Homo sapiens: one gene and its partners. The protein of the gene in region 4 purifies or fractionates together with the protein of the main gene of each other region. This does not show direct contact. Each region holds a gene or a part of one and is shown on either strand. Other genes may lie near its edges. The genes, in order: APOD, CAND2, CSN2, ARHGAP36, PDS5A, CLPX and SMC1A.

Region 1 (3,687 bases), on a different chromosome or scaffold from region 4:
TCCCAACAACCTTTGAGAATGGACGCTGCATCCAGGCCAACTACTCACTAATGGAAAACGGAAAGATCAAAGTGTTAAACCAGGAGTTGAGGTGAGTGGCTGTGGGCGTCCGGGGCCAGGCCTGCGGAGTGCTGATGCAGAGTGACTGGGTGTCCGGCAGCCTGGGTCAGGGAGGATGGGAACCTTGCTGGATCGGGACTGCCTGCTCCTAGCAGGAATTGAGAGGAAAGCGTTTGGCAGGCAAGGATGGCAAGGACTAGGATCCACTTATGCATTTCCATGACCACCTGCGGGGCACAAACTGACAGGGTTCCTGCACTCACTGCAAAATAGATACTCTGGTAGCAAAGAACATCAAGACCATCTCTTCTGACCTCCAGTCTGGGAGAGAAGCCGCTTCGACACCATCTGCTGACAGAAGCATCCAGCTTTGTTCAAACACTTCCAGGAACTGGGAGCTCATCGCCTTCCAGGACAGTTCATCCCATCTCTGGGCAGCTTAATCTATCAGAAAGCTCCTTTTCTTATTAAGCAAGAATCACATACACAACATTCACACTCTAGGTTATGTAAACAGGATATCCTTTAGAAGTGTACATTTCTATTACTGAGGGCTTCTAACACAATAATTAATCCAAAAAGCTACGCTTTGGAAAGCAACTATAAACTTAAAAAGAGCCCCAGGAAGAGCTCCTTCCTACCCACCTTCCACTCTTGAAAATACAAATGCAGTTTTTCCATGAACATGTTGTGACTTCATGGTCAGAGACTGGTGTCCTGAAAACCGTTCTAGAGCAAAATGCAATTGACGGTGAAAAGGGCAGAATCTGCTGGGAGGAGACTGGTTTGTTGCTAAGTTAACGTATGCAGATAGAAACAGACCATCTTCCCCAGCTGTCTGAGATCCAGATGAGAGAGGAGGGCACGGTCTCCAGCTTTACATGGTGATAAACAGAGAAAGTACTTGGGAACATCAGAGCACAGTTCCCAGAATCCCTGGCCTGTTGCTCATTGTCCTGTTTCTAGGACATCCGTCACCACTAACCATAGCATTAACCTACTGACTTTCTTTTTTTTTTTTAATTGTATTTTAGTAGAGACGGGGTTTCACTGTGTTGGCCAGGCTGGTCTTGATCTCCTGACCTTGTGATCCGCCCCCCCTTGGCCTCCCAAAGTGCTGGGATTACAGGCGTGAGCCACCACGCCCGGCCAACCTACTGACTTTCTAACACATACGACTGCTCTAATTTCAGTTGGCCTCCCTGCTCTGCCTTGAGGATTGATAAACAGACATCCTCTCCTCTGTTGGCTTCCTAGGAAGAGCACCCTGATGCCTTAGCACCCTCCCTTTGGTGCCTCCATCTCCACACCTTTCCCCTTCTCCCAAGTTCATGGGGCCATTGGGAGTCATCTAGAAAGCAGGCTCATTCAAAGAGGTGAAAGTATTGCATCCAATCTAAGCCCCCAGCTTTTAAGACACACCACTGCGTTATATGCCACTAAGAAAGGAATGACACTGCTAATTGTCAGGTGACATCAATTGTGAGATATGCATTTCTTCACATTTAATGTCTCTGAAATCTGGGCATACCTGAGAATCACTGAGATAAAGTAAATGTTTCTTCACTGCCTCCTTTTACTTGGCCTACATTGAAATCCCCCACACTCACTCAGAGGCTTGCTGAACTAGAGGGAGTCTCTGGACTCAGGCCCCTTGATGGGACAGGCGATGTCACATGATATCACTGAGGCCCAAAGAAGGGGAACGCTTTTATGTCTCCTTGTTTTGAATTATTTTCAGTGATCAAGTCCATCCTCATCTGTACCTTTGGCCCTTCTCGTTTTAAAAAGAAGTGAATCTGCCAGGCACGGCGGCTCACGCCTGTAATCCCAGCACTTTGGGAGGCTGAGGCAGGTAGATTGCCTGAGGTCAGGAGTTTGAGACCAGCCTGGCTAACATGGTGAAACCCCGTCTCTACTAAAGATACAAAAAATTAGCCAGGCGTGGTGGTGCATGCCTGTAATCTCAGCTCCTGGGGAGGCTGAGGGAGGAGAATTGCTTGAACCGGGGAGGCAGAGGTTGCAGTAAGCCGAGATCGCACCACTGCACTCCAGCCTGGGGGACAGAGCAAGACTCCATCTCCAAAAAAAAAAAAAAGTGAATCTTCTTTGTGTGTTGGGTTGTTTTGTTTGTTTTTCCATTCTCTTTTCTCCCTTTCTTTGGAGACTGGGAGCAGGAATTGGTCTTTCAGGCCATAGAAGATAGTCAGAGATAGTGTTGAAGTGCAAGGGCCTAACATACTGTCCCATCCTGGAGCTTGTCAATTGCGGCTTCTTATCACCCCGCTGCTCTCTTCCCCTGCTTGGCCTCAGAGACAGTCACAAGGGAAAGGCCAGGCCATGGAGCTAGGGTCTAGCCTGCCTTTGAGAGCCTCTCTTACCAGAAATCACGGTGTTGGCTGCCACGGTCCTTAGTGGCACAAATCTTGCCTTTCGTTGCTTATTGGCTTTCAATGAGTTGTTTTTCTTTTCTCTTTTCGTTTTTTGTATTTTTTCTTTTTTTAACTCACTGCAGAGCTGATGGAACTGTGAATCAAATCGAAGGTGAAGCCACCCCAGTTAACCTCACAGAGCCTGCCAAGCTGGAAGTTAAGTTTTCCTGGTGTAAGTATCCACTTTTCCCAGGAGGATTCAGGGACAGGAAATATGCAAACTGAAGGCTAGCGCCCCGGCTTGGAGAATTCCTGAGACACCTGAGTGTCATCTATAATCACTCAGCACATAATTATCTGTCAAACACTTACTACATGTCACGCACTAGGGTTGCCATGATGAGCCGGACAGAGCTGGCCTTGGTACTTATGGAGCTCACATCCCAGTGTGGATACTGACACGTGACCCCGCAATTTACTATAACTAGCTAGCGTTTCAACAGGTGAAACACAAGTAGGTGCACACCGGGTGTGGGCTGCAGAAGACACAACCCAGTCTTGTTTCCCAAAGGAAACTGGGGCCCGAAACATTAGCAGATATTAGCAGAACAACCTGCACGGCGCAGAAACTAGGAAGCAAGAGATGACAAGAGTGACGGCAAGTTTGAATCCTGCTTCTGCCACTTTCCAGTCACATTGTTGGGGATCCTGTGAGATACCTAATGACAGGCATTTGCCTCTGGGTTCTGAGCTAACTGAGGAAGGGACACAGGCAATAGAGAAAGCACCAAATATTAGTTTTATTTCCGACGAAGATACACTAGAGAGTTCAACCCAGAACTGTGAGGCTTTCTAACACGAAGAGTGCTTGAAAGCCCCTTTCCCACCTGCAGGGTAGACACTGAAGTCATCAGCTACAAAAGTTACTCCCTGCACTTCCTACTTCTCATCTCTGCCACTCCTCCACCCCACACCAGTCAAGTGCCTAGAGCGGGGAGGAGAGGAAGTTCTAATTTTATAGACCAAGAAAGGAATGCTGGGAGGAGAAAACAGTTCTTCTCACACTATGAATATGGACAACTAACTTCACATGTACAAGCCAGAAATAACTGCCCAGTGTCGTGAAAATAAACCAGATACACACGCTCTGTAAACTGTAAAGGGCTTTATACACAGTTTCTCTTGTTATTTTTATCAAGAAGGGAGCTAAAGTGCAGGTGGGCTGAGTGACGCAGGCCATCACTGAACTCATTAG
Region 2 (4,319 bases), on a different chromosome or scaffold from region 4:
ACATTCTGAGAAGTGCATCCTTAGGCGATTTTGTCCTTGTGTGAACCTCATAGAGTGTGCCTACACAACCTAGATGGTAGAGCCTACTACACTCCCAGGCTATATGGTGTGGCCTGTTGCTCCTAGGCTACAAACCTGTATTGAGTACTGTAGGCAGTTGTAACAGAGTGGTATTTGTGTGTCTAAACATAGAAAAGGTACAGTAAAAATAAGGTAGAAAAGATTAAAATGGCATGCCTGTATAGGGCAGCTCCATTAAAATCTTTTTTTTTTTTTTTTTTGGAGACGGAGTCTCTCTCTGTCGCCCAGGCTGGAGTACAGTGGCATGATCTTGGCTCACTGCAAGCTCCGCCTCCCGGGTTCACGCCATTCTCCTGCTTCAGCCTCCCAAGTAGCTGGGACTACAGGCGCCCGCCACCACACCTGGCTAATTTTTTGTATTTTGTTTAGTAGAGACTGGGTTTCACCATGTTAGCCAGGATGGTCTTGATCTCCTGACCTCGTGATCTGCCCACCTCGGCCTCCCAAAGTGCTGGGATTACAGGCGTGAGCCATTGCGCCCGGCCAGCTCCATTATAATCTTATGGGACAACCATTGTATATGTTGCCTGTCACTTACCAAAACATCATTATGTGACACAGGACTGCATTTGACCTCGAATCTTTGTATTAAGGTCTACTTCTAGGGGAACCCTGAGGTACTGCCCAAATCCACCAGGGCCCAGGAGCTGCTCAGCAATCTCCTCCACCCTCCCTGTGCAGGTTCATGGCCACCAGCGACCTGATGTCGGAGTTGCAGAAGGACTCCATCCAGCTGGACGAGGACAGCGAGCGCAAGGTGGTGAAGATGCTGCTCCGGCTCCTGGAGGACAAGAACGGTGAGGTGCAGAACCTGGCTGTCAAGTGGTGAGTGTCAGCCTCGGTGGAGCAGGAGAGGGGGCCCTACCTTGTGTGGGAGCATCCTGGGGACCGCTGTCCCTTTGGGGTACAGCCTCGCAGAGGAGACCTGCTGAGCAGCTCTCGTTGAATGGTACCTTAGTCTGAGTTTTCCCAGAAGATGCTGAGACAAGGATTCAAATCTAAGTTTATTTGGGAGGCGCTCCCAGGAAACATGGTAGAGGAGTAGGGAAGTGAGGCAGGAAAGGGAAGAGGACCAATCAAGGGTATGGTACGAAGCAAGTGACCACAGTGGGCCTGATGAGCTTAACCCCATGGGGACCTCTGGGACACAGTATAGGACATGTCCCTTGGACTTTTCCCACTCAAAGGGTAAGGGAGCTGGGGTATTAATCCACCAGCTCCCTGGTAGTCATTGGTTAAGGGCTGCTTCTGGGGTAGGATGGAGGGTTGTCCACTGCCTGCCACCTCCAGCCAGAGAAAGCCCTCAGACAGATGTAAATGCTGGGAAGGTCAAGCTGACACACATCAAGGTGGTAAAGGCTTAAAGGCTGGGTGCGGTGGCTCATGCCTGTAATCCCAGCACTTTGAGAGGCCAAGGCAGGTGGATCACCTGAGGTCAGGAGTTTGAGACCAGCCTGACCAACATGGTGAAACCCTGTCTCTACTAAATAATAATTAAAAAAAAAAAGTTGCCGGGCATGGTGGTGCGTGCCTGTAATCACAGCTACTTGGGAGGCTGAGGCAGGAGAATCGCTTGAACCCAGGAGGCAGAGATTGCAGTGAGCCAAGATTGCGCCATTGCACTCCAGCCTGGGCAACAAGAGCAAAAATTCCATCTCAAAAACAAACAAACAAAAAAGGCTTAGGGCACATGGGACTGGGAGAGGTCCTAAAAGCCCCAGCCTTAGATCACTGTGAGGCTGTGATCCTGAGACGTTGGCCAGTTATCTCGAGTAGAAAAAGACAAGACAAGGGTATGTGCAGAGCACGTGGGGATGCTTGTGTGGTAGGGTCATTCTCACACCCACACCTGAGAACCACTAGTGTAGGGCAGAGGTTGTCAAGCTTGACTGCAGGTTAGCATCACCTGGGTAATTTTAAATAGAATGCCAGGGATCAAGGGACAACAGGGTGAGAGAATTGGGCACTGTCTCTCAAACCACTGTCTGTGAGCTGGGTCCAGGCATTCTTCTGGGGCATGTTAATGAATTTGCAATGTGATCCCAAGAGCAGAGAGAATTCAGTAAAGGGTTTTATGTAGGAAGGTGACATGGACAAGTTTATGAGCTGGGAATGTCTTTCTGGTCATGGAGTAGACTTAGGATGGGTTTCACACCAGCAGAACCAATACCTTTTTATAACAAATAGTTTGTAATACCGTTTCCTATTAGGAAATGAAATTCATACATTATAAAACCTACCTCTACACATAATGCCCTAACCATAACCATAAAGGCAAACTAGAAGGAATGTAGTTTATAGTAATGTGTGTTTCCATGTATGCGTGCTTGGGCACTGTGATGGTAGAAGTGATGAAGTCACGAGAAGCCTGCATCTACACGTGAACTCATCATGAGTACAGATACAGACAGGGGGTGTTGGGGACTCAGGTTTCAGAATTGGAGGCCATTGCTCTTAGTGGCAAGATTTTCTTTTTTTTTTCTTCTTTTTTTTTTTTTTGAAACAGAGTCTCACTTTGTCACTCAGGCTGGAGTACAGTGGTGCAATCTCAGCTCACTGTGACCTCCCCCTCCCAGGTTCAAGCGATTCCCATGTCTCAGCCTCCTCAGTAGCTGACATTACAGGCATGCACCACCACACCCGGCTAATTTTTGTATTTTTAGTAGAGTCGGGGTTTTACCATGTTGGCCAGGCTGGTCTTGAACTCCTGACCTCAAGTGATCTGCCTGCCTAGGCCTCCCAAAGTGCTGGGATTACAGGCATGAGCCACCACACCCAGCCAGGATTTTCTAAAGTGAGTGACCATCTCCCAATAAAGTTTCCCAGAAAACAAAGTAGAATTTTCCTTCAATTTACCTGAAAATTGCATTCTTAGAAAATCTAAAATGTGGTATATTAAAACAATGTAAAAAAGTATTTTGTGTCTATGTATAAAATGAAATTTTAGACTCAGATAATTATAGAAAGGCCTTTTGCCTATACAAATGCCCATTGGGATGTTAGAACCTCTTGCGGGGCATGGACAGTGCTTTGTTTTACATTATTGTCTTTCTGCCGTTCCTGCTTCTCAACCCCTTAAAGGCCAGAAGTACTAACTCAATAGTTTTGATGACCAAGGACCCCCATAAATTGCCAAGGTGGTATTACTCCTAGTGGGAACCAGTGCTATAGGAGGTAGGATGGAGGACTCCATGATTACGTAGATAGAGGAGCTGTGGAGAAGGAAGTTGAGAGAACCAAGGTTTGAAAACCATGGTGCACATGCCTGTAGTCCTAGCTATTCTGGAGGCTGAGGCAAGAGGATCACTTGAGGCCAGCAGTTCAAGACCAGCCTGGGCAACATAGCGAGACACTGAAAAAAGAAATTAGCCAAGCATGGTGGCTTGAATATGTAATCTCATCTGTGTAGGAGGATCGCTTGAGCCCAGGAGTTTGAGGCTGCAGTGGGCTATGATCACGCCACTGTATTCCAGCCTGGGCAACAGAGCGAGACCTCATCTCAATAAAAATCAAGAAAAAAGAAAACCATTGTGCATTGCAGTCACCTGAAGCTCTTGTTGAAACCCTGTATTCCCTGCCCAGGGATTCAGATTCAGGGGATGGAGCAGGAAGGGAGCTGGGGCAGAGGATGAGACTATAGCACCCTGGAATCTGCATTCTGATGCACACCAATGTCTGAGAACCACTCAGGTAGGGCAGAGGTTGTCAGCCTCGACTGCATGTTAGAATCACCTGGGGAATTTTAAAAGCCCTCCCCCAACCCCCTCCAGGCCACATCTGAAACCAATTAACTGAGACTCTCTGAGGGCAGTGCCCAGGTAGGCATTTTTTAGAGGCCCAGGTGATGGCAACTAAGGCCAAGAACGAGGGCGTCTAGTGCCGCTGTTTTTACACTTTCCTGTGCATTGGAATCACCTGGGGACCTTGTGGCGCTACAGATCCTGGCTCAGTAGATCTAGGGTAGGGTAAGGCCTGAGATTCCACATCCTGAACAAGCTCCCGAGTGGCATTGCCAATGCTAACTCACCACCAAACTTTGAGAAGCAAGCCTCTAAGGCAGAGGTTCTCCAAGTGTGCTCCCTGGACCACCTACAGTATCAGCCTCAACTGGGAGCTTGCTAGAAATGCACACTATCAGGCCACACCTAGATATAGCCCTCCTGACTCTGAAACTCTGGAGGTGGGGCCCAGCCATCTGTTTAAACAAGCCCGCCAGGGGATTCAGATGCACCCTCAAG
Region 3 (4,319 bases), on a different chromosome or scaffold from region 4:
TAGTTCATGAGTCAAATTTCAAATTAAATGAATGACATAATATATAAAATAAATAAAGGGACAAAGTTCATTTTTTCCATATAAACTCATTCAAACATACTTAATTTGGGGTAACGTGATACAAAGACGGAAAAGGCATCATATTTCCAGTCTCAGTCAATTCTGTGGAATAGAGAGCAAATATATAATTAGTTATGTTATAACACGTAACTATTCAACTCTCTTCACTTTTAACTTTGGTGTGACTAATTCACAAAAGAAATTGTATTGCAAATGCATTCTGTTGCGGTTTGGAGGCATGTAAAGTTTGTTCACCAAACTTCACCAAAGTTCATCAAATATTAGTGAACTTGAAATTGTTTCAGTGAAATGTCTGGTATTTCATAATCCCAAAAGGCTTTATATCTTAGAATTGCAATGCTGTTCTCTCCTCTTTTTAACCTTTACACTTGGAGTAATTTTAACTCATGAATTAAAAGATAATTTTAAGTAAAGTAAATACAAATTTTATGAAGGCTAGGTTAGAAATAAAAATGCAAATAGGCTTTTGACAAAAGCTCAAATGTATTTCCATAAAAGTAAAATAAGTATATATTCTGTCTTTCCTAAAAATAGTGATAATCAAATGTAAGTATATAGGCCCTTGAAAGCAAGCCAGTCAAATCTGTCAATAGTACATAAATAAAATTAAAGTTATTTGAAATGCAAAAGATAGATAGTTTCAGGTCAGTAAATGATAGTCAACCATTAAATTGATAATTAATAAAAAAAGTTCTTGTATGTATGAAATTTTCACTGTATTGGACTTCTCTAGGAGAATTAAATGTAAAAAGACATCATGTATAAAAATGATCAATTAAATCTCCAAACTCCCAAAACTTACCAAAAATAAGGAGGGAAAATTAACTTTGAAATCTTCTTAGACCTTAAAAATAAACAGATACAAATAAATAAATAACCTCTTAGTAAGAAAACTTGCCTTAAGAATGTTGTAAGTAGTGAAATAAGCATCTCCGTCTTTTGCCTTCATATATATTTACAGCAAAAACCAGATGTGAAGTAAGGCTTGTGTAAAATAAATAAATAAATAAATAAATAAATAACCTCTTAGTAAGAAAACTTGCCTTAAGAATGTTGTAAGTAGTGAAATAAGCATCTCAGTCTTTTGCCTTCATATATACTTATAGCAAAAACAAGATGTGAAGTAAGGCTTGTGTAAAAGAGATGTGCACAAGGAAAATGACAGAACATTTTTTAGCTTTTTTTTCCAAATTCAATCATATTATTAAATTTAATTCCGGCTTTTGTAAGCCTTAATTACTTTATCTAAATCAGAATTCTCAACAGACTAATTAAACCAGAATTCATGCAATAGTTTTTTTCTCAACACTCAGTTTCCTCTACACAAAAAACTAGAACAATTATATCAGAATCTCTGGGTAAGCTTAGGCATTGGGATTTGTGGGGAAAAGTTCTCCAGGTGATTCTATTGTATAGGTAAGCATTAAGAATCACTTATCTATGAGAACACATGGACACAGGAAGGGGAACATCACACACCTGGACCTGTCGTGGGGTGGGGGTAGGGGGTAGGGATAGCATTAGGAGATATACCTAATGTTAAATGACGAGTTAATGGGTGCAGCACACCAACATGGCACATGTATACATATGTAACTAACCTGCATGTTGTGCACATGTACCCTAAAACTTAAAGTATAATAATAAAAGAATCACTTATCTAAACTGTTTTTTTAATTCATTTACTCTACATTTATTCTTTTATTCTACCATCACATACACATCTTGAATGAAACAGCAAAGCCAGTAAATTTGGACTTACACTAATGGGGTTATGAACTGGGGCAAGTGGCTGAGTCACAGGGTAGATCTGGTGGGTGGGGTTAAGTAGAAGTTCTTGGTTGAGCAGAAGGGCTTGAACAGGCACAGCTCTCTGAGGGTAGGGCACCACTTGCTGGGGGATAGGCAGGACTTTGGGCTGAGGAACAGACCACAGGGGCTGAGGGGGAAGTGCAAGAGTCTGAGGAATAGGCTGAGGGACCTGCTGCATCAAGGGCTGGAGCAGAGGCAGAGGAAGATGCAGATTTTCAAGATCAGTGAGTTTTGGGATTTGAGGGTCAAAAAAGGGTATCGTTGGAGATTTAAGGACAGGCATCACTCTGCCCTTAGTGTAGACAGTGTCTTTAGCTTTAGGGACTTCCATTATTTCAGGCTGAGGGACAGGCAGCACCACAGCAGGCTGAGCAAGAGGCAGAATGTTTTGTGGAAGAAAACCATAGGGGATAGGTTCAACGAATGGATAGATCAGAGGCTGTGGCTGGAAAGAGGGGTAGATTTTATCCTGGTGTTCATCCTGGAAAGAAGGAAAAAGAATCTTTGAGTCCTTGATTAAGCTATAATTGCCATTCATAATGAATTCATTTCTCTCTTTTAGACAATGATAAATGAGTAAAAAGAGAGGAGAAAATATTTCACTTATTTTGGTTAAGAAAGTATCTTGAGTCATGCGAAGAAAAATGAGTAAACTGTTTGTTGAAAAATTTTAATCCACTCACTTCATGGGTAACTCCACAGGCCAAAGTGAAATCAATGTTTGGATATTTCAGAAACACTTTTTTTAACATTTTCCTGAATTGCCTGGATAGCTGTAGCTGTACACTTTGGTCTTCAGAGAGAATTTACTTTTCAACACAGTTGTGCCAATAGTAGACCAAATTGTTTTCATACAGTGAAAAGAGATCAGTTTAAAAAGACTTAGAGGGACAATTCCAAGGTTTATTTTTGTTTTGTTTTGGTTTGATGAAAAAGAAAATCAGTCTTAATTTGTGGCTAATCTCAGGAAGTAATTTAACACCGGCCAAATTCTTACATTCCTTCCCTTGGGAGAAGATAGTCTCTTGAGTCTTTCAAGAGACATCAATTTTTTTGTTTAAATTTGATTTTAGAAATATTTTATGTGACTCCAAACAATTCATTGGTACACAAAGCAATTGAAAATTATAATTGGGTAAACATATCACCATAAATGTAATTTAATGAAATACAGGATTTTGTGTTGTCCATATGGGAATAAAGGCAATATGGGACAAATTTTACATAGGTTTTTTTACCAGCCGTATACACCTTTTCATTACCATATCCACCTTGGAAATAAGAGGATCATAGTTCCCAACCTGGAAATGTTCCCACCAATGTGTACTTGTTGAAAACAGATATACCATTAGTAATATCATTATGTATTTAGTCTGTATTCTAGAAATTAATTATGAGTTTAAAAATGCATGCATATCCTAGAAAATATATTGACTTTATCAATGTTTAATTTTTAAAGTGGTTGGTGGGTATATGGCATTTATTTTATTATCATTCTTTAGAATCAACATACACATTATAAATATTTTTGTATGTATTATACTTTATAATAATTTTAAACATATACTTATCATTAACAAATTACCTCTCCTTGCTGCTGGTCCTCATGTTTAACCTTCTCAACTTTCTGCTAAAGATATATCATATATAAAGATATGTTACCATCTGTAAAGATTAAAAGGAGGAAATTTTGAAAATGTGTACATTTTAAATGTGAAAATTTACCTTGTATTCTGTAATAGATTCCTACAGAAAAATATAAAATAAAATTAGGTTTAGTTTTAACAATTCTTACTTTGCAATATAAATCAGGAAATAAAGGCATTAATTCTTTGATAATATCATTAATAACTTTGTATAATCATTAAACTTATGTATTAAACTGTTCTATATGAGCTTGTTATGTAAAAGAAAGTCAGATGAATGCAGTCAAGAAGGACATGGTACAAAAAAAAGCAATTAATAGATGCTAATTTCTCTCTACCACCATGCTCATTCCCTGACAACAAATGATATCTAAAACCCCATCTGATTTTTAAAAAAAGAAATACTCATTGAAAATATATTCTAATAACAATTGATACATTATGATCACTTCAAATGAATCATAAGAGTTAAACACTTCCCTTAAGGATCATATAACCTTTCTGAAGAGACAGAATCTATTGATGTACCATTTACTTATCAAGTGATCACACACCCAAGAAGAGTGGTGTAAGAATAAATATCTACCTGACTCTCTCAGGTAAATTTAGGACTACACTAAATCTCGCTTATTTACTAAAGTGGCTATTGTAATTATAAAATGTGTCCTTTTTGCACGTCTGCCTACCTACTACTTAGCAAGCTCTTAACTATCACTGGCATCTCTAACTTTTCAGTTTGTACCACAGCTCCTAGTCAATGTCTGACCCATAGAAGGCCGT
Region 4 (4,319 bases):
TCTTCCCAAATGTTGGGCCCTTAGGCTCAATTGCTTACATGTATAATCTCACTTAAGTCACAGGGCATCACTTTGAAATAAATAATCTTTGGGTAGTTTTTTGACTGGGCAACAGCTCATTTCATTGCACTCCCCCTGAGAAATGCTGTACAATGTGAAGGGTAACTTTGTGGGTAACTATTGATATTCTGCAGGGCTATAATTGCTTTGGTGCCTCCCTTTGAATGTCCTTCAGAAGTCTTCAGGAGTCAGAGATGGGGTTGGGGGAGGAAGCTGTCAGCTGACTGGACAGAACTGGGGCAGTATCTAAATGTTCCTTCACCCCCATTCCCCTTGCCCAAGAGATAGCTGGCATGTGACAGCAATTTTTTTTTTGAGGGGCAGGTTTATTTTGTCTTCATTAGAATATCATCACTCTTTTGTTGATGTTTGCTATTTTTTTTTTTGTTCAACTCTTTTTTAAAAAAATTTACTTTAAGTTCTGGGATACATGTGCAGAACGTGCAGGTTTGTTACATAGGTATACATGTGCCACGTTGGTTTGCATCAGAGAGATTTTTCAGGGCGACAACGGGCAATGGGCAACCATAGGAAGGCACTTGGGAGAGGCATCACTGAGGTCTGGGAGGAATGAGGGCCCAGAAAGGCCTTCTTTCCCAGGGAAAGAGACAGCACAATTGACCCACTTGAAATTCTCTCCCCAGTTCACTCTTGGCATTGGATTTGGCCTCAAACAATTGGACTTCTGTAAAGCAGCCAAAGCTCTAAAGCTGAAGGGACCCTGGGGCGCACTTTACATACAAATTTGATCTTTTCTTGGAGATGGGACCGAATCGATTTGCTGAGGCCAGGCCTAGTTGTGCTGCAGCAGGATCAGTTTCCAAAGCTGGGGCGTGACTGCCAATGAGACCAATGAGACACCCCATTCTCCAAGTCAGGTCGTCAGATAAGCACCCCCATTCACCAATGGCAGGACTTCCCCAATTTTCTTTATTACTTGTTTGTACCTCAAAATACATTTCTCCCAAAGAAAAAAAATGTGATGCTCTAGAGCTTAGCCCATACCTTACCCATCGTGAGGATAAAATACAGAATCTGTGTGATGAAAACTGGCAGAAAATAATACTCTTGCAAATATATCTCAGGCTCCAGCAGTAGAGCTGACATTTATCAGGCTTAAATATCAAATGATGGAAAGCATTGAGCACTGATACAGCAAGGCACCAGGTCCGTGAGGGTGATTATGGCAATGGTGAAAGTAACATCATTCCTTTTTTTTCACACCTACCTACTACAACAACCTAAATGTCCAACAATAGTGGAATGGTTAAATAAATTCTGTGATATATCCCCTTATTAGATTGCACAGAATCATAAAAATTGTTTTTGTGAAGAATATGTAACAACATAGAAAATGGTATGATTGTAACTGTCAAATATGCATTTTTGAAAGACTAGAAAGAAATCGACAATAAGATAAAGTTAGAGAATCTATTAAGGTGGTGGGATAATAGTTATTTTTCTCTATGTTTTCTAAAGTCTATGAAGTTTGTTCTTCAATTACTGTTATAATTTAAAAAGGCATACAAGGGTAAATTTAGTACCTGTGATATGCAAATAATCTATACAGTGATCTAGAATTTCACTATACATAGTTTAAAGAATTTTTTCTCCTAATTTTAGTTTAAATGTAATGACTAGATCCGGCCAGCCAACCATGATCTTCCCAATGATCATGAAATTTCCACTAACTCTGGGTGGGAAGAGGAACAACTGGTTTGAATCCCAGGCCAGCTCTTATAAGGTTGCTGTGAGAGAGTTACTTAACCTCTCTTAAAATGACATAATAATGTCTATATTTTGGGGTTGTAAATAATAATAATAGTTCTTATTACTGCTGTTGTAGATGTCATTATGTTAAATGCTTTCTATGGCTCAGTTATCAAAAGAAGCTTTTTTCCCAAATGTTTACTATTTGTAAATACCAGTCATACTACATAAACTATCTCTAACCATAACAACTTTCTGAGGTTAGTATTATTGTCTCTATTTTAAGGACAAAATCTCAGAGAAGTTTAGTAACTTGCCCACTGTCACACAGTGGCTGAGCAGGGATTACAATCCTTTTTGATCTGACTTCGAAGCTTGAGTGAAATTAAAAGAGAGAAACATTTGCAAAACTCCTATGCTGACATATGGCAGACATTTACTAGGTGGTCAACATGATGTTGGTGATACTTTGCCCAGGACCCAGATGCTGGTCTTTGACTTATTTGATTATCTATAAATTTCTTTCTGTGAAAAGGAATTTCAACTGAAAGATGCAATACAAACGCACCACCTGTGTCCTCATAGATGTGGCTCTGAGTCACTAAGAAACGATTTCTGTTTCCTTCGGCAGTATCATTTGTTCTCACATGTATCAGCAGAAGTAGGTAGATGGCATGTTTGATGAGCCTTGGCAGCTACTGTCACGTCTCAGATACACTTCCTGAGAAACCACGCGGCTTCCTCGGGATGAGTACTCAATACTCAGCAGCTGGTAGGTCCCTGCTTATTAAGGAAACTTACTAAGTGGCATGGGCATATCTGGAACCCCTGCTCTAACTATTCTCTGTCTGATGTGGTTGACACCTAATTGCTACCCCTCCCATTTCCCTTTTCAAAGCTAAGGCTCCAGGATTTCCACAGAAGCATACAGGGGTAGGAGCTGGAGAAGTTTTTCGAAATTCTTAAATCCTCAGAGGGACTCACTTGCAAGGAGGAATCTAGGGTTAGTGAAGGTAGCATGCAGGATAAATAGAAGGGATGAAGGAGAGGGAGGAGTTGAAGGCACCTTCCAGAGTCTGGGAACATCTAGGGGTGGACCTCTCAGAGCTTTTCCTGCCATGAATCTCAATACCTCTCTACTCTGTAGTCTCTTTATCCCTCCCTGGGATTATATCCACCACCACCACCCCTCCCCCGCCCCCAATTTCTTGATCTTCCACCACCGCTCCCTGCTTAAATGCAGCTTTAGCTTGCAGTGACTTGCTTTTGTCTCTAGAGGGAGGCAAAAGCACCAGGGAGGAGGGGGTTCAGATTGGGGTCTTCTTCCACTTCACTAGTTTTGGCAAAGAGTAGAATTTATTTTCCTTTCATTGGGAACATATGAATAAAAGCTAATCAGAGATGTATTTTAAGTGCTGCATAGCATATCTCAGAGAACCATCATATCTTTCTCTATCATTCCATCTACCCCTCAACGTAGGTGGCTGCTAGAAACTGGATGGTCTTAGGCACTATTATTTCTAGAGTGAAAGTGAGGGCAAAGCAAAACAGGAGTCATAGGGCAATCTTAGCCAGGAAATAGTCATGCTTTTATTTTCTGGGGCACAATGGCACATATTTAGGAGACTGGGTTGGGGCTGGGTCAGCAATTGGGGTGGAGGGAAGTCTGGACAGTGAGCAGAAAGTTTGAAACTTTCCTGTGTGGAGTATTACATCTGAAACCTTGGTCTCATTAACACTGCGAGGAGAAACTGCAGAGTGAGAATTGGACTTAAGGTCCAGTTCTTCCGGGGCTGCATTAGGCTGATCAAACATCTTCCTAAAAGAAGAGGGACTATTTCAAGAGTGTCAGACAAGCCAGTAATGAGGAAAATTGGCAGTTTAGTCAGTTGGCTCCACTCCCTGAACACCATGGTTGAGACACTCTGGGCTACATGAGAACGAAAAAAAGTGCAGAAGGGAATTAACTAACCTTTTCTTAAACATTTACTGTATCTGTTAACCACTTGGCTGGTGGTTTCTATGGTTTACCTCCTTTAGTCATCTGAGCAATTCTAGGCAGGTGTTAACATCTCCATTTTACAGTTGAGGAAACTGAGGCTCAGAGAGGTGAAGTATCCTTCCCAAGATCACACAGCAAGTAAGTGCTCGAGCTGGGATACCAACACAAAGCTGTCTCATTCCGAAGCCTGTGGTCTTTCTCTGCCCTCCCCACATGGAAAAAACAAAAGCCCTGATTTTCAAGGGCTTTACTCTCATGGGGAAACCATGATCTCTCTCCCCACAAAAATCCACATTTTGGTGCCCTGCTCCTCCAGATTCTTATATTTAGGGTGAAATCAAACAAATCTCTGTTTATATTGGACAGTAATGGGAGTTAGTAAAGCATTTTCACCTTTACAATTCCCCATATAATCTTCATGTTATGGGAACACATTTTCTGAACTCCAAAGAGAGAGAGAGACTTATGACAGCGATTTTAAGCTCCAAGGAAGTGTGTGTGTGTTTGTGTGTGTGTGTGTGTGTGTGTGTGTCTGCGTGTCTGTGTG
Region 5 (4,319 bases), on a different chromosome or scaffold from region 4:
CAGGATGTGTGGTCATTTCACTTTAATAGATTTTTTTTTTAAAGTAAATGTTACAATATATACATATATTATGTTGTACACCATCGTATATGTAATTTTTGTCAAAAATACACAAAGTAAATGAGTGATGTCATTAAGAATTCTGATCTGAAGATGGAAGGATCTTTTCAGCCTAGAAGCTTGACCATCCTGGGCAATGTAGTGAGATTCTGTCTTAAAAAAGAGAGAGAATTTTGAGTTAGGAATTTGACTGTTTGCCATTGTGGCTTCTTCAAGTGTTCCTGCATTATTAGATTAAGACTGCATTTTTAGGCCGGACGTGGAGGCTAACCCCTGTAATCCCAGCATTTTGGGAGGCCAGGGCAGGCAGATAATTTGAGGTTAGGAGTTCGAGACCAGCCTGGCCAACATGGTGAAACCCCATCTCTACTAAAAATACAAAAATATTAGTTGGGCATGGTGGTGCACGCCTGTAATCCCAGCTACTAGGGAGGCTGAGGCCGGAGAATTGCTTGAACCCAGGAGGCAGATGTTGCAGTGAGCCGAGATTATCCCATTGTACTGCAGCCTGGGCAACAGAGTGAGACTTGTCTCAAAAAAAAAAAAAAAAAAAAGAAAGAAAAGAAAAAAAGACTGTCATTTTGGCAGAAATTCTATTACGATAGTGTTGTATCATGGTTACTAATCCCTTTCCTTGCTTAAGGTTTTGATGTTTGTTTACATTTCAAAATATCTGACAAAGAGTGTTTAGAGATTAGTAATTCTCAGAGGTCATCTGGGCACCTGGAAATATGGATGGGATTTCTGAGAGAAGAAAATCTGTGTTCCTGGAGAGAGAAAAGTTTAGAATAAACACAATAATGTAAATTTGGCATCTTGAATCTGCATCATTTTTGATACTTCATTTTTCAAAATAGTCTATAGTGCTTCATGTATATGCCTTAGCCTTTTTAATAAGGCCTTCATGATTTGATCTGTGTCTGTGGAATGCTCCAGCTTCCTTATGCTCCACACACATGCCTTGTGCTCCAAGCGTATACATGTTTTTCAGTTTGTTTTATGTCCCTTGCACTTTGAGATTTTCTTTCCTTGTACCAAAACTTTCTAGCTACCTGTATTTAGTACATCTTTCAATCCCTGTATTACTTATTAATCTTTCTAAACCTCTCAAATATTTTCTCTCATAAGAAGGCTTATATTTACCATTTGTACTAAATTGTTTTAAATCCTAATAAATATATTTCCCGGTATTTAAACTTTTAGGTAGATGTAGAAGAATGGTGTATATACAGCATGCAACAAGAAAGGTTGTAAAGCTGAATAATTTCCAGTATTGTTATGTAATGTGTGTTTTCATATTCATAACTTTACAGAGCTCTCAACGAAATGTGGAAGTGTCAGAACATGCTTCGGAGCCATGTACGCGAACTATTGGATTTGCACAAGCAGCCTACAGTAGGTTCATGATTTGTTTAAATTCATAGTTTATTATAGTCACTGTTCAGATTTTCTGTAGTTCTACGTAATGAAGCAGGGAAAAAGTATCTCAGTTGTTTTATTTTCCAAATGTCAGTTAAATATAATTTCTGTAGTTGTCCAAGCTAAATTTCCATTTAAAATAAATATAACAAACTCTTATTTTCTAGTGTGAGCAAAGAAATGGTGTTTTCTAGTTTATATAAAGTTTTCAGACACTAAGAGTTTATAGTTAATCAATTTTCAAATAATTAGAATTAAATTTTGAGATAAAATTACATTAAACATCATATTTCTTTTTCACTGCATGATTCATGGTCTCTCAGTGTAGAGTGAATATCAGATATCAATCCTATAAATATGCCAATGGCAAACTAAAAAAGAAATGCCATTAAATTTTTGCAAGGTTGGGGAAAAAAACTTTACATTTTTACGTGTGTTCACTAGAATAGGTGTTCTTAACCAGGGGACCATATAAACAGACCCCTCAAGGACACATGGATGCTGGAACAGGGGCGGGCAAACTTTTTTTTTTTTTTTTTTTTTTTTTTTTAATACACAGGATCTTACTCTGTTGCCCAGGCTGTCGCATAGTGGCATGATCACAGCTCACTGCAGCCTCGATGTCACTGGGCTGAGGTGATCCTCCCACCTCAGCCTTCTGAATAGCTGGGACTACGGGTGTGCTCCACCATACCCAGCTAGGTTTTGTATGTTTTTTGTAGAGGTGAGTTTTCACCATGTTTCCCAGGCTGGTCTCAAAATCTTGGGCTCATGCAGTCTGCCTGCCTAGGCCTCCCAAATTGCTAGGATTACAGGTGTGAGATACTGCACCTAGCCTAGCAAACTTTGAAAATAAATCAACAGATAGCAAAAACATATTTTGCAAGGCATAGAGTCTGTGGTCAGATATTCAACCCTGCCTTTGCAAAATTAGTCATACACGATAAATAAATGAATGGACATGACTATATTCCATCGAAACTACTAACAAAAACAGGTAGCTCATGGGGGCATAGTTTTCTAACTTTTGAACTAAATTATTCAAATTTAGTATAAATGAAAACTAATAAGTAATGTTTTATGGGATACAGGAAAGGGAAGTACGTTTTAGAAAGGAGGTTTTCCTGAAGGTATTTAAGTAACGGGCCACAAAGTAGCTAACAGAACTCTATTGCAGAAAAAAAAGTTTCTTCTCTATATTTTTAGTTAATTTTTTGTGGCATGTAGTTTCATAGTAATTCTGATATGATAAGTTTATATGTTGATTGCTTCATTGATCTTTTTTCAATCTTCTGGCAATGTAACTTTCCTGTGAAAGTTATATACTTGTGGGTTTTTAAGTACCTTCCTCCCAACATCTCCTTTCCTTCTATTTGTCTTAATAGTTGCTACTATGTAATTCTTTGTTGTTAGTTTAGCGTATATATGTGGTAAAACCATTTTCCATTGAGCAGACTGTGATGAACTTTATTTTTTAACGTCATGAAAAATGTACAGTAATGAGTATTGATTTTTGTTAGGGAAATTTGTTAACACATATGACTAGTTGTTCTTTTGTTTCTGTTTTAAATTTCAGTCAGAGGCTAACTGTTCTGCCATGTTTGGAAAACTGATGACCATAGCAAGTGAGTATGTTTATTTACTCACTAAACATGTAGTAAACGTAAATGCAGACAAAGTATTTACCCAGTGGGACTACTGATTTAATGTTAAGTAAAAGAAAATAATCTTTATCTTAATTTTGTTTCTAAGAACCAGCTAGGCTGATTTTCTTTTAGTGGCTCCGCAATATTTTGATGGCACCTGTTTTTAGCTTAGTAGAATAGTTTTTTTTTTTTCCTTCTCTAATATTGATTCTCTTTTAATTTTATAGAGAATTTGCCTGACCCCGGGAAAGCACAAGATTTTGTGAAGAAATTTAACCAGGTTCTCGGCGATGATGAGAAACTTCGGTCTCAGTTGGAGTTATTAATTAGCCCAACCTGTTCTTGCAAACAAGCAGATATTTGTGTGGTTAGTAAATCATACTTCACACTTTTTCTCTAGCTTTACTTACAGAAATATGTATTTTATTAAAGCCTGTTTTACATACAGTGATTTGTGTAAATGTAACAATATTGTGAGCTCTGAATTACTTTGGAGTATATCTATTGTCAAGTTAATTCTCTATTTACCATTCACTCTCAGCCACATTCCAGGAAAATAACTAAAGAACTAAGCCAGGGAGATTGGTCTTAGGAATTTTACAAGATAAAGTACTTTGAACTTAGTAGACATTCATTGAGTAATGATAAGTATTTTCTGAATGCTTGTGTACATGTGCATTTTCTTCTTTCATGTATTAGAATGGAAATAATCGTCAATAAATTAGTAGTAGTAACATTGCCATATATCTGGTTTCATTTACAGATAAAGTAAATTCCTATCTAGACTTTTGTCTTCATTCTTCTCTTGAACTCATTTAAAACCAATATTCTTAAAGCTATCAGGAGGGAAAACTTATGCATTCATTTATTCAGCTTTTTTTTTTTTTTTCCTGAGATAGTCTTGCTTTTGTCACCCAGGCTGGAGTTCAGTGGCACAATCATAGTTCACTACAGCGTTAAAGTCCTGTGCTCATGTGATCCTATACCCCAGCCTTCTGAATAGCTAGAACTATTGGCACACGCATCCACACCCAGCTAAGTTTTTAAATTTTTTGGAGGCCATGCACATTGGCTCACACCTGTAATCCCAGCACCTTGGGAGTCCAAGGCGTGTGGATCACCTGAGGTTGGGAGTTCGAGACCAGCCTAGCCAACTTGGTGAAACCCCATCTCTACTAAAAATACAGAAATTTG
Region 6 (4,319 bases), on a different chromosome or scaffold from region 4:
GTTGCCTGAAACTAATAATTGACACTCTTCCTTTTTTCTCCTTCATAAACGTTAGAAATCAGCAAGTGAGGGAAGTAGTAAGAAATCAGGCTCTGGGAATTCTGGGAAAGGTGGAAACCAGCTGCGCTGTCCTAAATGTGGCGACTTGTGCACACATGTAGAGACCTTTGTATGTAAGTATTACATCTTCTACTGTTCTTTTTTCCCTACATTTTCTGTAAATTACTAAGTGTATAAAAATATGTAAATTATGTAAAATGTATAAATATAGGCCAGGTGCAAACGGCTTATGCCTATAATCCTAGCACTTTGGAAGGAGGAGATGGGAGAATCCCTTGAGCCTAGGAGTTCAAGACCTGCCTGGGCAACATGTTGAGACACCTGTCTTTCCAAAAAAAAAAAAAAAGCCAGGTATGGTGGTGCATACCTGTGGTCTTAGCTACTTCTTTTAAGAAGGTTGAGGCTGCAGTGAGCCATGGTCATGCCACTGTACCCCATCCTGGGTGACAGAGACCCTGTCTCAAAAAAAAGAAATATATATATATAAATTGTATTAAATGTGTAGAAATATGGATTATATGAAATAGATAAATGTATGTGACTTTGTATGTTATATAAATTATATGTAAATTGTATGAGCTTACCTGATTCTCTCTTATGTTCACTATATACTAGAAAATCTTCAGGACTGGTAATACTTTGCACTGTTGTGTAAGAGATAATTTAAGAAAAACATTTGCTTCTTTATTTTGCTTACTTGTGTTTATTTCAAATTAGATTTTGTGAATTTCTGGATGTGATCATTAGGCTATAGGAGAACCAAGACTTATTTATTCTGTATTTATTACTACTTTCTTCAAATACATATTGAATATCTCACATGGCTGGGAAGGCCAGTCATTCATATATTAAGGTAATTTCCCTTAGTACTTACCAAAGGAGGTAAGCCCTCAATTCCGGGAAGCATCTGATAATTATTAATGATTCAGACACTCAGAGAAGGAAGAAATCAGGGCTGGGCACAGTGACTCACACCTGTAATCCCAGCACTTTCAGAGGCTGAGGTAGGCAGAGTGCTTGAGCCCAGAAGTTCAAAACCAGCCTGAGCAACATGGCAAAACCCCATATGTATAAAAAAATAAAATTAGCTAGGCATGGTGGTGCATGGCTATAGTTCCAGCTACTTAGGGGCTGAGGTAGGAGGATCGCTTGAGCCTGGGAGGTGAGGCAGCAGCGAGCCAGCCATTGAATTCCAGCCTCGGCGACAAAGCAAGAACCTGTCTCAAAAAAAGAAAAAAAGAAGGAAAAAAATCATGTATCCTACTTTTGCTGTTAGTGTCAGTAACTCTCTGAAATGCAAAGATTCTACTACAGATATTTTCATTAATGAATCAAATAATCAAAAAACTCATTACTTAACATAATTTAGAGTTAATGGTAATGAATTGTACCACCATGTCAGCCTTCCTATACAATCCAATTGAAGAAAGCTTCAAGATTGTAAGACTTCAGTGTCTGATGGTTGGCTAGAGAGTATTCTCTATCTCCTAACCCTAATATTGAGACTTTGGTTACAATTTCACACTTACCATTAACCATAATTGGCCACCATATGAAAAGGTACTAGATGTAGTGTGTTTTTATGTACTGGAAAGACTTAAAGTAGCTCCATCCCATAGCTGGAATATTAGGGGTTCTGAACAAAATTTAATTTGGATCACAACATAAAATGAAAGTGGGCCAGGCGCTGTGGCTCACACCAGTAATCACAGGACTTTGGGAGGCCGAGGCGGGCTGATCACTTGAGGTCAGGAGCTTGAGACCAGCCTGCTCAATATGGTGAAACCCCATCTCTACTAAAAATACAAAAATTAGCCGGGCGTGGTGGCGTGCATCTGAAGTCCCAGCTGTTCGGGAGGCTGAGACAGGAGAATCTCTTGAACCTGGGAGGTGGAGGTCATGGTGAGCCAAAATCACACCACTGCACTTCTCCAGCCTGGGCGACAGAGTGAAACTCCATCTCAAAAAAAAAAGGTAGAACTGGATGATAAAACCTTCTAAACAAATTTGATGTGATATAATAAAATTATACAGAGGCTGAAAATTGTTCAATTTATAAGGTCAGTGTCTTATATTTTAATCAAGAAATTTTCCTCCTTTTTTTTTCTTCAAAGAAACATTTCAACCTTTATAGACCTAAAGAATAATTTGTTGCCAGGCGCGGTGGCTTACACCTGTAATCCCAGCACTATGGGAGGCTGAGGTAGGCAGATCACCAGAGGTGAGGCGTTCAAGACCAGCCTGGCCAACGTGGTGAAACCCCGTCTCTACTAAAAATACAAAATTAGCTGGGCGTGGTGGCGGGCACCTGTAATCCCAACTACTCAGGAAGCCGAGGCAGGAGAATTGCTTGAACCTAGGAAGCGGAGGCTGCAGTGAGCCGAGATCACACCACTGCACTCTAGCCTGGGAAACAAGAGTGAAACTCCGTCTCCAAAAAAAAAAAAAGAAAGAAAAAAAAGAAAAAAGAATAATTTCTTAGAGTAGAAAAGGAAAGAAACTAATATTTAATAAATGCCAACATATATAGTTTTATTCTTGCACCCTTAATTTTGCCAGAACAAAGAGTATTCTCCTTTTTATAAATAAACTGAGATTTAGCAAGTTTAAGTAACTCATTCAAGGTCACATAGCAGTGAAGATTTGCTATTCAGAAATTCCTATATCATACATTTCTACCATCTGGAGATACTTTAGGAGTAAACTAGCTCCTCTTGGGATTAAATTTATTTTCCTTCTATGCATTCTTTCCAAAACTTGCCAGGTTGTATTAGTCACTGAAGGTGACTGTTAAACTTAGAGATTCCCAAACTCCTTCCCTAGAGATTAAGATTCTGTAGATGTGGGATGGAGTCCTAGAATTTGTATGTTAGTAGTATATGTATATTATTAGTTAGACCAAGTGTGGAAACACTACTTTAGTGTAATCAATTCAAGGCTGAGGCCTGTTTGCTTTGAGAATTCTAATTGTGGGTGGTGATATGGGAGTAGAAAATGTAGAAGGAAAGAATGAAAAAAAGAGCACACACTTATGTGCAAAATTAATAGCAAATGTGTTGATTCAGACATCACTAGGCTCAGAAAATATGCAGATGATCATGACACTGTCCCTGTCCTCTAACTATTTGTAGGCCCTAGCAGTGCAGTGAGCCCCTCCTCCCTTAGTTTTGTGTACCCATAATAAAAGTCTTTTCAGAATGCATCCTTTTGAATCCTTCTGTGTCTGATCATTAAAAGTTGGGTCTTCATAGTCCTAAAGAGAGTTTTATTTGATCTCAGGTTACTAACAGGTTGAGCATCCGTAGTCTGAAAATCTGGAATTCAAAATGCTCTGAAATCCTTTTGAGTGCGTCATGACGCTTAAAGGAAATGCTCCATTGGAGCATTTCAGATTTCAGATTTCATGTAGGGGTGCTTAACCAGTGTATTTCTGTGAATATTCCAAAACGTGAAAACATTTGAACTCTGAAACACTTCTGGTCCCGTGCATTTTGGTTAAGGGATAACTCAGCCTGTTTTTTTGTTTGTTTTTTGTTTCTATTGTTTTTCTGAGGCAGAGTTTCACTGTTCTCACCCAGGCTGGAGTGCAGTGGCGCGATCTTGGCTCACTGCAACTTCTGCCACCTGGATTCAAGTGCCAGCCTCAGGTGCCTCAGCCGCAGCCTCCCAAGTAGCTGGGATTACAGGTGCCCACCACCATGCCAGGCTAATTTTTGTATTTTTAGTAGAGACGGGGTTTCACCTTGTTGGCCAGGCTGGTCTCGAATTCCTGACCTCAGGTGATTCACCTGCCTTGGCCTCCCAAAGTGCTGGCATTACAGGTGTGAGCCACCATGCCTGGCCTGCATTTTAAGTCTGCATTTATTTGGATACTAGTTTGTAAACATCTTTTTATATGCTTTTTGGTCAGTTGTAATTCTTTTGTGAATGGCCTGTTTAAGTAATTGTCTACTTTTTTGTAATTTTAATTATTTTTAATTACTTGAAGAATGCATATGTAGATCCTCCTTTATGAGAAAAGAATAGACCCTGATAGATGAAGCTATAAAGTTCTATAACATATCTTCATTGAACGTGTGATTTTTTTTAAAGTATAAATAGCATATTCATATTTTTGCAAATTGCTTGTTTTCAGTACGCAGCGTTTTGAGAGCTGTGTATGTTAATGCAGTTGACTCCCGAACAGTGGGTTTGAATTGCTCAGGCCTACTTATACCTAGCTTTTATTCAACCAAACACATAATGGCCAGCATATATGA
Region 7 (3,622 bases), about 78 Mb from region 4:
TTGTAAGAACCAGGCACATTTCTTGACTTGCAGTTTAGACAAATAGAATATTTAAGCACTCAGGCCCTGGGTAGACAGGTGCTCAGATGAGGGAGAACTCAAAAGGGGTGGTGGCCTTGCCAAGAAAGAGGAACCAATGTGAGGCCGAGCCAATGGAGTGGCTGAGAAGGCCTTCCTAGAAGAGGAAACTGAAGCTAGAAGTTTAAAGGATAGGAATTTGAGGGGCCAACTAAGTAAATACAGGATGTTCTTGGGAGTTGTTAATGAGCTTCCTGGCCAGGGTTGAGGCAGAGTTGGTAGCTTTGCCTTATGGAGTGGCTGGAATGCCAGGCTGAAGTCATACCTTTCAGGGAGTAGTCAGACTGCCCCTTTTTTTCAGGATCTGTGGGGCATTACGCCCATGTTCTTTTAAGTAATTCCCTGAGGTTGGCTCAGGGGCTCAAGCTCTCCTTTGGGTGAAAAGCCTGGGAACCCTCCCTTCTTCCATAGTTCTCACTGGTTTCCCCCACCCCTCTGGCAAAAGGGAGAAGGACTCAGAATTGAACCAGAAGCGGCCTCAGTACATCAAAGCCAAGGAGAACACCTCCCACAAAATCAAGAAGCTGGAAGCAGCCAAGAAGTCTCTGCAGAATGCTCAGAAGCACTACAAGAAGCGTAAAGGTGACATGGATGAGCTGGAGAAGGAGATGCTGTCAGTGGAGAAGGCTCGGCAGGAGTTTGAAGAACGGATGGAAGAAGAGAGTCAGAGTCAGGGCAGAGATTTGACGTTGGAGGAGAATCAGGTAAGCTCTGGAAGGGGTTGGCAGGGAGGAGATCCCTGGGCTGACATCTGCTGACTTGGTCATCCCTGTTCTCCTTCCCTGTCCCTAACACAGGTGAAGAAATACCACCGGTTGAAAGAAGAAGCCAGCAAGAGAGCAGCTACCCTGGCCCAGGAGCTGGAGAAATTCAATCGAGACCAGAAAGCTGACCAGGACCGTCTGGATCTGGAAGAACGGAAGAAAGTAGAGACAGAGGTGGGCTATAGTTATAAGATTAGGGATGATGGTCCACAGAAAAGGATATATATAGGTTGAGCATCCCAAATCCAAAATAATCCAAAATCTGAAACGTTTCCGGTCCTAAGCATTTTGGATTAGAGTTACCCAACCTGTAATGATAGTCTTTTTTTTTGTTTTTTTGTTTTTTTGAGACAGAGTTTCGCTCTTGCCCAGGCTGGAGTGCAGTGATGTGATCTCAGCTCACCACAACCTTTGCCTCCCGGGTTCAAGCAATTCTCCTGCCTCAGCCTCCTGAGTAGCTGGGACTACAGGCGTGCGCCACCATGTCCAACTAATTTTTGTATTTTTAGTAGAGACAGGGTTTCACTACGTTGGCCAGGCTGGTCTCGAGCTCCTGACCTTGTGATCCACCCACTTCGGCCTCCCAAAGTGCTGGGATTACAGGCTTGAGCCACTGCGCCTGGCCATGATAATCTTAATGATAATGACAATGATAATGACAGTAGCTCACATCTGTTGAGCACTTACTGTATGATAGGCAATGTTCTTTACATGTATCCACTCATTTAATTCTTCATTTATTATTATCTTTATGGAATGGCTACTATTACCCTATTTTATGAATGAGGAAATTACAACACAGAGTAATTTGCCTAAGGTCACAAGATTATTGTTATTTTTGAGACAGAGTCTTTCTCTGTCATGCAGGCTGAGGTGCAGTGGTGCGACCATGGCTCACTGCAGCTTCGACTTCCCAGGCTTAAGCAATCTTCCAACCAGAGCCTCCTGAGTATCCAGCATTACTTGTGCTTGCCACCATGCCTGGCTACTTTTTTTTTTTTTTTTTTTGAGACAAAGCCTCACTCTGTTGCCCAGGCTGGAGTGCAGTGGCATGATCTCAGCTCACTGCAACCTCTGCCTGTCGGGTTCAAGTGATTCTTTTTATTTTTTTATTTTTATTTTTATTGTTTTTTGAGACGCAGTTTCTCTCTTGTTGCCCAGGCTGGAGTGCAATGGTGCCATCTCGGCTCACTACAACCTCTGTCTCCCAAGTTCAAGCAATTCTCCTGCCTCAGCCTCCCCAAGTAGCTGAGATTACAGGCACCAGCCACCATTCCCGGCTAATTTTTGTATTTTTAGTGGAGACGGGGTTTCACCTTGTTGGTCAGGCTGGTCTCGAACTCCTGACCTCAGGTGATCCACCCGCCTTGGCCTCCTAAAGTGCTGGGATTACAGGTGTGAGCCAACGCACCCAGCCCGGTTCCAGTGATTCTTGTGTCTCAGCCACCCGTGTAGGTGGGATGACAGGTGGGTGCCACCACACCTGGCTAAATTTTTTGTAGTTTTAGTAGAGATGGGATTTCACCATGTTGACCAGGCTGGTCTTGAACTTCCGAACTCAAGTGATCCGCCCGCCTCGGCCTCCTAATTTTTTAATTTTTATAGAGTCAGGGTTTCTGCTTGTTGCCCAGGCTGGTCTTAAACTCCTGCCTGCCTCTGCGATCAGCCTGCCTTGGCCTCCCAAAGTGTTGGGATTACAGGCGCGAGCCACCGTGCCCGGCCACTCACATAACTATTAAGTATCAGAACCAGACCCTGGGCATTGTAGCTCTAAAGCCCACACTCTTACCAAATATACTTTACTTACTGCCTCCCTGATATCAATATTGTAATAACAGCAATGATAGAAAGTTGTCATAGTGTCCCAGGAGTGTACAGTGTTCAGGCATTCTGCTAAGCACTTTTAAATATTTAAAAGAATGTTGGCCAGGCGTGGTGGATCACTTGAGGCCAGGAGTTTGAGATCAGCCTGAGCAACACAGTGAGACCCTGTCTCAAATTTTAAAAAATAATAAAAATTTTTTAAAAATAATGTGATAGTCATTAATATTAATAACAACCCTATATTAAGCACTTAATGTGTATTCTATGCAGTGGAGATTACCCACATTTTGCAGATGAGGAAACAGGTACAGAAAGGCCTGTGAAGCTTTATCTTGATTTGAGCCTCCATGGTTGGTGAAGAAGATGCCTTGGCTGGGTAGAACACCTATGAGAGGTTCTGGAGCTCTGGGAGGCCCCCATCATTAGTTAGTAGATCAAACCGAACACCATCTATGTCTGCTTTTTAGTAGGCCTCCTATATTAGTGACAGATTGTCCTGGACTGTTCGGCTCTTGGATGAGTGGGCACATAAAGGGTGTGATCTAGAGCCCCCATGGTCTTGGCGTAAACTCGTGCAGCCCCTGATGATGGAATGTTTGTTTCCCAGGCCAAGATCAAGCAAAAGCTGCGGGAAATTGAAGAGAATCAGAAGCGGATTGAGAAACTGGAGGAATACATCACCACTAGCAAGTATGTAGCTCTGCATCTGTCCCCCTTACTTCCAGGCCTGTTCTTGTGACCCTACCTACATGCCCCTCTTCATGCAGGACCCCCAGAGCTCTCTGAGCCAGGAGTATTTTCTCACCAGCAGGAGTAACTCCTGTGTGCCCTCACTTTGTAGGCAGTCCCTAGAAGAGCAGAAGAAGCTAGAGGGGGAGCTGACAGAGGAGGTGGAGATGGCCAAGCGGCGTATTGATGAAATCAATAAGGAGCTGAACCAGGTGATGGAGCAGCTA

Evidence for each region.
Region 1: the proteins of ARHGAP36 (region 4) and APOD purify together in Homo sapiens (affinity purification with mass spectrometry; 2 studies listed by BioGRID and IntAct, with this or other methods). This does not show direct contact.
Region 2: the proteins of ARHGAP36 (region 4) and CAND2 purify together in Homo sapiens (affinity purification with mass spectrometry; one large-scale study listed by BioGRID and IntAct). This does not show direct contact.
Region 3: the proteins of ARHGAP36 (region 4) and CSN2 purify together in Homo sapiens (affinity purification with mass spectrometry; one large-scale study listed by BioGRID and IntAct). This does not show direct contact.
Region 5: the proteins of ARHGAP36 (region 4) and PDS5A purify together in Homo sapiens (affinity purification with mass spectrometry; one large-scale study listed by BioGRID and IntAct). This does not show direct contact.
Region 6: the proteins of ARHGAP36 (region 4) and CLPX purify together in Homo sapiens (affinity purification with mass spectrometry; one large-scale study listed by BioGRID and IntAct). This does not show direct contact.
Region 7: the proteins of ARHGAP36 (region 4) and SMC1A purify together in Homo sapiens (affinity purification with mass spectrometry, with the first as the bait; one large-scale study listed by BioGRID). This does not show direct contact.

The regions. Positions count from the first base shown.
Region 1 is NC_000003.12:195,570,254-195,573,940, reverse strand, and holds part of APOD (apolipoprotein D precursor), read left to right. Parts: coding exon 1-91; intron 92-2,575; coding exon 2,576-2,664; intron 2,665-3,687. UniProt on the Homo sapiens protein: APOD occurs in the macromolecular complex with lecithin-cholesterol acyltransferase. It is probably involved in the transport and binding of bilin. Appears to be able to transport a variety of ligands in a number of different contexts.
Region 2 is NC_000003.12:12,802,726-12,807,044, forward strand, and holds part of CAND2 (cullin-associated NEDD8-dissociated protein 2), read left to right. Parts: intron 1-762; coding exon 763-906; intron 907-4,319.
Region 3 is NC_000004.12:69,955,431-69,959,749, forward strand, and holds part of CSN2 (beta-casein isoform 1 precursor), read right to left. Parts: intron 3,640-4,319; coding exon 3,619-3,639; intron 3,524-3,618; coding exon 3,479-3,523; intron 2,375-3,478; coding exon 1,844-2,374; intron 926-1,843; coding exon 920-925; 3' UTR 884-919; intron 163-883; 3' UTR 1-162. UniProt on the Homo sapiens protein: Important role in determination of the surface properties of the casein micelles.
Region 4 is NC_000023.11:131,060,765-131,065,083, forward strand, and holds part of ARHGAP36 (rho GTPase-activating protein 36 isoform 1 precursor), read left to right. Parts: intron 1-4,319. UniProt on the Homo sapiens protein: GTPase activator for the Rho-type GTPases by converting them to an inactive GDP-bound state.
Region 5 is NC_000004.12:39,897,562-39,901,880, reverse strand, and holds part of PDS5A (sister chromatid cohesion protein PDS5 homolog A), read left to right. Parts: intron 1-1,373; coding exon 1,374-1,455; intron 1,456-3,055; coding exon 3,056-3,104; intron 3,105-3,352; coding exon 3,353-3,492; coding exon of another isoform or gene 3,493-3,525; exon of another isoform or gene 3,526-3,867; intron 3,868-4,319. UniProt on the Homo sapiens protein: Probable regulator of sister chromatid cohesion in mitosis which may stabilize cohesin complex association with chromatin. May couple sister chromatid cohesion during mitosis to DNA replication.
Region 6 is NC_000015.10:65,174,788-65,179,106, reverse strand, and holds part of CLPX (ATP-dependent clpX-like chaperone, mitochondrial precursor), read left to right. Parts: intron 1-55; coding exon 56-173; intron 174-4,319. UniProt on the Homo sapiens protein: ATP-dependent chaperone that functions as an unfoldase.
Region 7 is NC_000023.11:53,409,155-53,412,776, reverse strand, and holds part of SMC1A (structural maintenance of chromosomes protein 1A), read left to right. Parts: intron 1-523; coding exon 524-782; intron 783-875; coding exon 876-1,016; intron 1,017-3,273; coding exon 3,274-3,356; intron 3,357-3,507; coding exon 3,508-3,622. UniProt on the Homo sapiens protein: Involved in chromosome cohesion during cell cycle and in DNA repair. Central component of cohesin complex. The cohesin complex is required for the cohesion of sister chromatids after DNA replication.